2 separate regions of the Homo sapiens genome follow, and region 1 is linked to region 2. Evidence: fine-mapped expression QTL. Tissue or cell type: whole blood. Region 2 holds a variant in brackets; the other region holds the start of a gene. All regions are shown on one strand. Distances are from middle to middle. Region 1 holds the start of ANKRD44-AS1 (ANKRD44 antisense RNA 1). Region 2 holds the start of ANKRD44 (ankyrin repeat domain 44).

Region 1 (5,377 bases), 120 kb before region 2:
GGGACTGGAGAGTAAATCTTTCATGTTGGAAAATAATAGAAGATGAAGTTAGAAAAATGAATAACTGGGTGGGGGGAGCATCACATCAGCATAAGAAGCTTTAACCTAATCTTTTTGGTGCAATCATATAGCTCATTACCACCTCAAACTCTTGGGCTCAAGCGATGCTCCCACCTCAGCCTCCCAAGTAATTCAGACTATGGGCACAGGCCACTGTTAAACCTGGTGAATTTTTAATATTTTTTTGTGGAGACAGGGTCTCGCTATGTTGCCCAGGCTGCTCTTGAACCCCTGGCCTCAAGCAATTCTTCTGCCTCAGCCTCCCAAAGAGCTGGGATTACAGTCATGAGCACTGTACCCAGCCTTTACCTAATCTTATGGACAAACAGGAATGGGGGTCATGAGCAGGAGAAAGGAATAGAGTTTTCCCAAGAATTTAATCTGGCCAAAGTGTACACTGAGTACTGGAGAAGGAGAGATTGGAGTTAGAGGCCCAGTTAGAAGGCTGTTGCTACAATCCAAGCCATCACAGGAAAGAACTTTCCCATCTTTTTTTTAATCACAGTCTCCCCAGGTGCTACTTACAGGGATACGGTGAAAACAACAGATATAGTTTTTGGTTCTTTAATGTCTGCTCTATTCCTGGATGCAATTTTGGCCCAGCATCTTGGCCACTTTCCTTCACTCTTTATATATAGCCCAAATCCCTTGCCTCCGAAACACTAATGTTTCCAGGTGAAACTGAGGTTACTTCCTTTAGTTCTGGAACATTTCCATTTTTTCCCCCACAGAACCTCTGCGGATGTAAGCTCTGTTTTGTCAGACTTGTCACTTGATCGCTGAATTTAAATCATAACATTTCAAAAATAGGCCACATCCATAAAGAGAAAGGCAAATCAAAACAAGGCAGACAGCCTTTGCCAAGTGCCATATTTCTATCAGGATCTGCTGCCAACTACCCACAGATTTTTTCACTCTGTCTAGTTTCAAATGGCTTGAGATCAAACCTAAACTTTAGCTAAGATAATTAAATTGTGTTGGGGAGTTAACTTTTAAAGAAAGCTAATTTGGGCAAAAAGGACAATGGATCCAGGAGGTTAGTTCATACAGAACATTTAAATCCATGTAATTTTAGTGAAACAAAAAGAACAACTATATATACTTCTGCAACAGTTTCCTGTTTTGAAAAATTGGTATAGAGGTTTTATTTCTCATCTTGGCTTGGGTTACATTCTTTGTATAACTGTATCTTACTGCATATTGAATTCATGTAGTTGCAAACATGAGAGGTGGATTTAATAATGTTAATCAATATAAACCACTTTAGTGATCTTTGTGGGGAAAAAAGAAAAATGGCCAGAAGATGATTTTCAGGGTTGTAGGTATATTCAGTATAATTTATTTGTCTGTTCAAATAGAGACAGCAGTTCAGTTTTAGGGTGCACTGGAAAACATGACTTTTTATTACTACCTGGTATGTGCATCACTTATAAAAAAGACAACAATAAAAAAGTATTCCTTATAAAAAATAGCAGAAAATGATCCATAACTACAGAAGTATCTTCTTGTGGTCATGAGTAATTTTAATTTTTGAGAATCTCACAAATTGGAAGCTAAATAAAGCAATTCAAGTGTCCTTTAAAAACAACAACAAAATCAGCATGTAGAAATGAAAGGTACTCTCAGAAAGGTGGCAATCTCCTGCTACATTTGAGGAGGCTGGAACTACTGTATACAAGATATATGGATTAACTCAGTCACATTAAATCATTCATGATTTAGGCAACTCCAGATTGGGTTTGTCTAAAATCTGTTAGCACCTGGGTTCTTTCCAAACACCAGCAAGCAATTTTTACACAATCAGGTCTTTCCAAAGCCCATGACAATTTTCCTTTAAACCCTCTCCTTCCCTTCTACTGTTCTTTTCTTTGAATTCCACGTGCATTCTTGGAAAGACAGCAAGCAGTTAAACTCTCACCACCTCTCCACAGGTGAGGGACTAGGGACATGTGTAAAACGGAGTCACCTTCCTGTTCTGGCCATTGTCAATTTTTTTTTTCCTAAGGCATCTTGTTATAGCAACCATTCTAAAATTGTTATAGCAACCATTCTAAAATTTAAGGCAGTGGGTTGATCAGGACCTGAATTAGTTTCTGCCTGAGATGACTGGAAGGTCCCCTACTCCCTCCCCAGCCAGAAAAAGTCACATGGAATGAAAATCTATTAGAGAATCCCCTCAGTGTAGTCTTTCAGGAAGCATCTTCTCATTTCCCCATCCAAAATCATGGTAAGGACATCCAGTGACAGATGTCAAAGGGAAAGGATAAGGCAGCAGGAAGAGAGAGGAGCCTAAGAGACTGGAAAACATTCGATAATATAAAATGGGAAAATGGGAAATTCTGCAAAAAAAAAGAAGTCATATCATATTTCCTTTCACAGACACCAACCCAGTGCGTAGCTCCTTTATTTCTTTACACACTACCCCCTCCAACAGGGGATAAAAGATATGTTTTCTAAAACTTAATTTGGTACATTTCAGATAACCACATTCAATTCAACAAAGATGTATTAAGCATAAGACATTTACTGAGCATAAGAAATTCAGACACTGGAGGCCGGGCGCAGTAGCTCATGCTTGTAATCCCAACACTTTGGGAGACCAAGGCAGGCGGATCACTTGAATCCAGGAGTTCCAGACCAGCCTAGACACATGGTGAAACCACATCTCCACTAAAAATGCAAAAATTAGCTGGGCACGGTGGCGCACACCTGTAGTCCCAGCGACTCGGGAGGCTGAGGTGGGAGAACCAACTGAGCCCAGGAAATTGAGGCTGCAGTGAGCCATGCTCACACCATTGCACTCCAGCCTGGGTGACAGAGTGAAATCCTGTCTCAAAAAAAAAAAAAAAAAAAAAGAAAGAAAGAAACACAGAAAAAGAAAAAGAAAGAAAGAAATTCAGACACTGGAATGTCAGAGTCAGTCTCTCCCTTGATGAGGTTACCAAGGTGTAACAGGAAGTATACAAATACGCACAGCTAGAATGTAAGGCACAGGCCGCAGGAGAAGTGCATGGAGAAGGGAGAGAAATTGTACCTGGCCTCCTGAAAGACGCAGCCTCTGAAATGAATATTGAAGACTGGGGAGGATTTAAACAGGTAGAGACGGATGGAATGGTAAGGGACTTTCCCTTCTTCATATTCAGAAGGCTGTGAGCAGAAGCTAGGGAGCCTGAACATACACAGGGAACAGTTTCATTTGGCTGGAGGAGGGGAGAAGTGAGGTAAGCTGAGTAGTAGACAGGGATCCTATCATGGAAGGTCTTGAATACCAAGCTAAGAAATTTGAGCTCTCTTCTGTGGAACTGGGGGAGCAGTGGGTGGTTTTTGAGCAGGGGAGTGACCTAAGATTTGTGCTTTAGAACAATCACTCTAAAAATGGATTGTATGATGACCTGGAGGAAAAGGCTGGAGTGTCATAACAAGTTAGGAAACTGCAATAATAGTCTGCACAAAGGGCTCTGGGGATGGAGTACCGCTCAGTTGTCAGAGGAAGCATTCTTCTGGTGGTAATATGTGAATCTAAAAGGTAAATTTGACCGGGCATGGTGGCTCACGTCTGTAATCCCAGCACTTTGGGAGGCCGAGGCAGGTGGATCACCTGAGGCCAGGAGTTTGAGACCAGCCTGGCCAACATGGTGAAACCCCGTCTCTACTAAAAATACAAAAAATTAGCCAGGCATGGTGGCGTGCCCCTGTAATCCCAGCTACTCGGGAGGCTGAAGCAGGTGAATCGCTTGAGCCCGGGAGGTGGAGGTTGCAGTGAGCTGAAATCGTGCTACTGCACTCCAGCCTGGGCGACAGCAAGACTCCATCTCGAAAAATAAAAAATAAAATAAAATAAAATAAAATGTAAATCTAGCTCCACCTTTAATGTAGCAAGGGCTAGCCTCCTCAGGAGTGGCTGCCTACATTCAAAACGATTCTCACCAACTTCTTCCACAGGACACAGGGCTCGGGAGCAGCGCCAGCCCGACATCGGCGGAGGAGCACCGGAAGTTCTGCAGCACTGGCTTTCTTTGCTCTTCCACCTATGCAAGCTCCTTCTCTCTTGTGGCTTGCCGAGCCTGGTTAGCTCTGAGACCGGAAGTTCTGAAGTCAGCTGGCATCCTACATCTGTGCAACCTACTTCTCTCCCCATCCCACCACAGAAACCAGAGCCTCGAGGCTTTTGGCTTGGGTGCTGCCTTCACAGTTTAGGTTTTGGTAAGAAGAAAGCTTATCTTCATGTCATGAGAAAGAAAAAAAAATGTATCTTTACGTAACGAGCTGAAAGAACAAAACAAGTATACCTAAGCCAAGTACATGCTATCTTTATTTCTTTATTTCCACACTGAAATTTAGTCAGGGATAAAACTTACTTTTTTAATCACACGAAGTTTGAAAAATAGGAAGTACTATGGGAAACACCTAATGCATCAAAACCCCTGTGCATTTTATCTTTGTCTTATGTTTGCTGGATTTTAATCTTAGTAGGTTTCCTGTTGCAACAATACAAAAACAGATAAAGAAAAAACTTAATAACCTTTCCTACCACAAATGTGAACAGCCCGTGTTCTTGTTGGTAGGTACAGATACAGATATATGAGATTATCGTTATTTATTATCAGAAAATGGGATTTTACTATTTCCCACACACACACTTTTTTTGAGATGGGGGTCTTGCTATATTGTCCAGGGTGGTCTCAAATTCTTGGGTTCAAGCGATCCTCCCACCCAAGTATCTGTAATCCAAGTAGTCTGGATTACAGATGCATACCACCATGCCTGGCTTATTTCCCTCTCTTACAATTTGCAAAAATAATGATGTACTGAGGACATCCCCCAGGTCGATAGCTACAGGATTAAATCATTTCTCTTAATAACTATATATAATACTATTCCATTGTATGGATATGCCATAACATATTCAATTATTCCCCTTCGAATGGGCATTTGGGTTGTTTCTAGTTTGTACCACAACAAACAAGCCTCTATCAGTGCTTATCCACATTGCACAGAGAAGTGCTACCAGAGCCAAAAGCATTTTCTGAGTACCTACAATATGCTATTTTTATGAAATATACAAAAGAAATGTGTGACATAGTCCTTTCCTAAAAGACTGCCAAATATAGTTGGGGAAATAAGCCTAACCCACACAAAACACTTAAACTGTGTAAGACAGTACTGAACCATGTTCTACAGACCTCATGCAAATGGATGCCAAGTTGTCCTTCTGCACAATGACAGATTGGAGAGGTAATCTGGAGGTGCCTTTAGCCATAATATTCTAGGAGCCTTCTTGATTCAGAAAAGGGGAAGCATGAAAGGCTAAGAAGCC
Region 2 (5,377 bases):
CATCCCGCACCACGCACACAGCCTGGCGCAACTAAAGAGGAAGTCGGATGTCACATCCAACGGATAAATAAAGACAGCCCGGCCACACAAGAGCCGCATTCTGGGCAGGACTCCTGCTAGGTTTGGGGAGGGGTCCCAGTCTGCGATCCTTTCTCCCTCTTCGTGCAGCGTCCTCCTCCCCGGGGCCCGGGCCGGCGGCGCCCACGCAACGCGGCGCGGTGCGAGTCCCGAGAGCACCTCGAGCCCCCGGCCCCCTCCCCAGCCCCGCCGGGCCCGCGGCCGCCGCACTCCCGCACGCCGGCTGCCCAGCGCCCACGGGCCCTGCCCCAGACTCGGGCGCGCAGTTCCGACGGCCCAGGGCGGGGACGGCGCGGCGGAGGGGAGCTGCCGCCGCGGGCTCTCGGAGGCACCGGCGGCCGCACACAGTCCTCCCCTTCGCCGCGAGTAAACAGCTCGCGGGCGCGCTCCAGCCGCGCCCCCATCCCCCCGCCGGGCTCCGCGCCGCCCCGCGCCCGCGCGTCCCGCCCGCCGGCGCCGCCGCCCGCTACCTGGTCGGTGAGTTTGAGCACTGCCATTCTTCCGCTCCTTCGCGCGCACACACATGCAGGTCCCCGGCCCGCAGATGTCACGCCGGGAGCCGGGGAAGCGGAAGGGATTGCCAGGAGAAGGGAAAAAATCTGGCTCCCGAATTTGACAGCCCTCCCCCTGCTCCTCCTCCGCCGCCGCCTCCTCCCGCCGAGAGGCTGACACTGGCTAGTGGGGTTTGCAGCCGAGCCCGCCCGCCTTTCCACAGGAAGTACCGGCTGCTGCCAGCCGGGCCGCCACTGACATCACCGCGCGCTGGCTCGCTCGCCGCCCGCCGCCTGGGCCGACGCTGCCTCCTGCCGCCCGCAGCCGAGCCGCGCAGCCCGGCCCCCGGCGCTGCCCCCGCGCCCGCACCGGGCCGCCGCCTGCCTTCCGCACCTGCACGCGGCGCCCGGCCGGGCCGGCCCCGGGCCCTGGGCGGATCGCGGGCCTCCCTGACGGGTCTCACACATATGGGTGGGGAAGCCCGCGGGGACACACCCCGAGGGGGCAGGAAAGGCTCTCACTCACATGCCGTCCACTTTAACCGGGGAGATGGGGTTACGCCCCCTTCCCCTAACCCAGAATCAGGTGGTGGCAGCGCCCCGAAGATCCCAGGGACCGCAATTATGATGCTCCCTTTGTTTAATGCCAGGAGGCAGCGGACACATTGTGATTCTTTACAGGGTGTTTGCCAAACATTTATGGGTGGAGGGAACAGAAGCTCTGGCCCTTCCACCTTGTTCTCCAGCCACTTTCCAGCTAAACACACACACACATATGCACACACACATACTATTGTTAAATTCAAACACCCTGGGTTTGGTTTTTGCTGGTGGGGGTGGAGTGGAGTTCCTGGAGAAGCAAAGCAGTCCTAAATCACCGAGTTGATGGGTCTTTTGGGTGTTCCCACCAGTCCTTACTGATCTCTACAAAATCCCAAGTTACCAAGCTCTTCAACAAATAGAAGACAGCTGTCAAACACCATGGGCTACAGATACAACGGGCATATTCGTAAGCATAGTAGCTGTTGATAGTTCTGGAATTTGGAGCAAACACTTATTCATTGAACAGCTATGTACTGAGTCCCTACCTTGTCAGGCACTGGCTAGGCACGGGAATAAACGGAGAGCATAAATAAGATAACCTGCTCTCAGAAGATGCCAACATAAACCGCATAGTCTCTGCTAATGAATGTAATTACAAACTGAGATAAGGGATCTCAAGGGAAAACATGCTTCTGAAGTGAACCCACAACAAAGGAATCAGACCAGACTGGTGGGTGAGGGCAGGCTTCCCTGAGAAAGTGACAGGAGTTGAGATCTGGAGAAGGGAGAATTAAGTAAGCAAGTGGAGAGGAAGTGCTCCCAGGCAGCCCCATGTGCCCCTGGCAGGCCATAGAGCAAACCTGTAGGGCAGCATTGAACAGCTTTGAAGAGCAAACTAGAGCTACAGAATTCTTTGGTCAAGACCAAACATCTGCCTCTACTGTATATTCACAAACCAAATGTCCATTCTTCCTCCCTACTCTTAGAACCTCCCCCAAAGATTCCACATGAGACAGGAGAGAAAGGAGCATTAATATCCTCACATTTACCATCCAGCCACTCTGGTTGTCGAAGCAGCTAAATCTCAAATTTACCTTTATTAGTCTTATAGATTATAATTCAGATCATGCAGACAAGAAGAACCAAGGAACTTTGTTCCTGGCTTCCACTCCTCTGTTATCAATGTTGCATGGAAACAAACAAACAAAAAATTCTAAGGCCTTTCTCAGACATACAACAGATTGTTTATGTTGCATCTATGAGTCAGTTCTTCACTGCTGTTATTGGTATGTCTATTTACTGAACACCCTGCATGGCTTTGTAAGTAAACTGAATAGGACCCTGCATTCTCTACTTAAATAGAGCCATCTTTCAGAAGAGTGATAACAAATGACTTAATTTGGAAGATTCACTCAAGATCCAATTTGATTCATCGCGGACATGCCTGCACCTAAGTTCCTGGGGCCAAAGTGAGGAGGCAGCAGTTCTCCACCCAATCAGACCATCATCCTCTTTTTGTAACTAGTATCTTTAACACTCCCCTTACTATCCTGAAAGGTAATTTGTGGATAATATTACCTACCAATACAAATTTCAAAAAAAAAAAAACCAGCAACAATATATTGTCCTAATTGTACAATAAAGGAAAAATTAAAGGAGAGTAATTTATAATGAATATGTATTTCAGTAGGTAAGTGGTAAAACACAACTCTCTTTGTCTTCTGACAAAACAAAGCAGTAAGATGCTTCCACCTATATGGAGAGGCTTTGTGAATGAGAGAATTACAAATGCAGACAGATGTGAACATATAGTGTTAGGAATTCAAATATCAAGATTGGTGTTGTCATAGGTGACCTGACTTTGTGAAAGGTTGAACAACTCGTGGCCAAGTTCCAAATAAAATAGGGAGCAGAAGATTTGGCAAAATTTATTGATAAGACTACACTTATCAGAAGGTCTGCTTTTAATGTGTTAGCCAGTACTTTGACAGTGATTCAAACACTTTGTTTACTTCATTAAATGAGACTCAGACTCAGCAGTTGACTATATTCGGTGAGCTTGAGAAGCCAGAATGCCCCTGGTATAATGTAGAGAAAGAAATCCAAAG[A/G]TTTGTGGAGATGGGAATGTTGGAATAATTTTATCATGTATAATCTGTACAGCCAACCCCTACATATTCCTGGAGAGCCAGATGATGATCTTTATACTGAAGCATTGAAAAATACAGGCCAGGCACCATGGCTTATGCCTATAATCCCAGCACTTTGGGAGGCTGAAGCAGGTGGATCACCTGAGGTCAGGAGTTCCAGACCAGCCTGGCTAACATGGTGAAACCCCGTCTCTACTAAAAATACAAAAAATTAGCCAGGCGTGGTGGCATGCACCTGTAGTTCCAGCTACTTGGGAGGCTGAGTCACGAGAGTCGCTTGAACCCAGGAGGCAGAGGTTGCACTGAGCCAATGACGCGCCATTGCACTCCAGCCTGGGCAACAAAGCAAGACTCTGTCAAAAAGAAAAAAAAAGAAAAGGAAAGAAAAATACATTCGAGAGAGAACGTCAGAAAAACTCTCTAGTAGCTGGATATGATGGTGGGAGATGCTTTCGTTGAGATGGCTCCTTGATTTTTATATTAGTGGGATCCTGCGACAGCAATGGCCAAGTGGCAGCACTTAGCTGGCAGAGACAAGGTGGACACATTTACTGTAATGGACAGCAGAGACAAAGTAGTACTTAAAGGTCTTAACCTACAGGTATATCTGGCAGTGCCCTAGGTTGTCCTAGGAATGAAATAGACGGGCAGACTTTGGAAATAGCCATTGATCTTTATAACAGACAAAACTCTACATCTGCCACCTGAAAGCTCCCTTGAGCCATCAAAATGAAATTATCTTTCATTCAGTTTCCGTACCTAAATGAGTTCACAGACACAGAGCTCCTTGATTAAAAGGGAAGCTGGTCCCCTTCAGGAGGGTCTTGCAGCATTGTCATAAATATATACTACAAATCCTCATCCAAGCCTTATCCAAAGGAACCTGATGTATTTTTCTAGGCTGAGCGAGTACTGGGAAAAAGGAAATACCCAGACATTTGAGGGATCACTGACACTGCTTCTGAATTAATGCTAATTCCTGAGGATTGCAAACACCACTGGATCCACCAATCAAAATGGGGATCTATGGTAGGTGATAAATGAAATTTTTAACTAAGTATAAATCAGTGTGGATCCAGTAGCTCTGCAGACCCAAACTATAGTTATCTCCTCAACTGTTAGTTAGAATAGACATACTCAGTAACTAACAGAATCCTAACATCATTTCTCTGACCCACAGAGTGAAGTTTATTATGGTAAGACAGGCCAAATGGAAGCCTCTGGAATTTCCTCTTGATACCAGAATAGAAAACCAACAACAATGCTCAATCCCTGGAAATATGTAGAAATTGGTACCACCAGAAAAGACGTAGAAGATACAGGAATGATAATACTGTCACATCTCCATTTAACTCACCTGTTGGGCCTATGCAAAAGATCTTAGAGAATAACTATGATTTGTTATTAAGTTGTAAACTTAATCAAATGGTAATGTCAGTTGCAGCTGCTATTCTATATATGCTGTCTTTACCGCAACAAAGCAACTCAGCCCTAGGCACCTGGTGTGCACTATTGATATGGCAAATGCTTTTTATCTATTTCAATTTTCACCAAAAGTTGTTTTCTTTTATATGGCAAGATCAACAGTACACCTTTACAGTCTTCTCTAGGGGATGTAAACACTCCCACTCTCTGGCATAATCTCATCTGCACAGGTCTTGATCACTATGTTAAAGACATCGAGCTGACTGGCCCTGATAAACAGGAAGTAACAAATATTTTAGCTGCCTTAACAACACACATGTGAGCCAGAGATTGGGTATAAACCCCAAGAAAATTCATCACCTTAGTGAAGTTTCTGGAGGTCCAGTGGTCTAGAAAACACCAGGATATTCTCCCCAACGTAAAAGACAAATTACTTCACCTTGTACCATCTACCACTAAGAAAAGAGACACAATACTTTCTGGGTATCCTTGGATTTTAGAGGCAATATGTATCACATCTGAGTGTGATGCTGTGACCCATTTATAGAGCAACCCATAAGGCTGGAATTTTTTATTAGGAATAAGGGGAGAAGAAATATCTGTAGCAGGACTTGATGACCCAGAGGAATCCAATGATACTTAAAGTGTCTGTGGCAAATAAGGATGCTATATAGAGCCTCTGGTGAGCCCTGA

What was found. PIP is the estimated chance that this variant, and not a neighbour inherited with it, causes the effect.
Region 1: it holds the start of ANKRD44-AS1, and the variant in region 2 is fine-mapped to the expression of ANKRD44-AS1 in whole blood (INTERVAL, PIP above 0.99).

Annotation. Positions count from the first base shown.
Region 1 is chr2:197,194,916-197,200,292 of GRCh38, forward strand. ANKRD44-AS1 (ANKRD44 antisense RNA 1) reads left to right here and starts at 3,076. Exons shown (of 2, transcript NR_135584.1): 1 at 3,076-3,174; 2 at 4,003-4,358. All of the region lies in intron 1 of ANKRD44 (ankyrin repeat domain 44), which reads right to left. RefSeq lists an enhancer at 4,122-4,191.
Region 2 is chr2:197,310,030-197,315,406 of GRCh38, forward strand. ANKRD44 (ankyrin repeat domain 44) reads right to left here and starts at 751. Exons shown (of 28, transcript NM_001195144.2): 1 at 549-751. The coding sequence starts at 575. It overlaps ANKRD44-DT (ANKRD44 divergent transcript), which reads left to right and starts at 1,037. Exons shown (of 4, transcript XR_923750.3): 1 at 1,037-2,669; 2 at 4,160-4,288; 3 at 4,440-4,455. RefSeq lists an enhancer at 1-103 and silencers at 227-606, 657-976, 987-1,066. The variant A/G (reference allele first, on the strand shown) is at 3,221.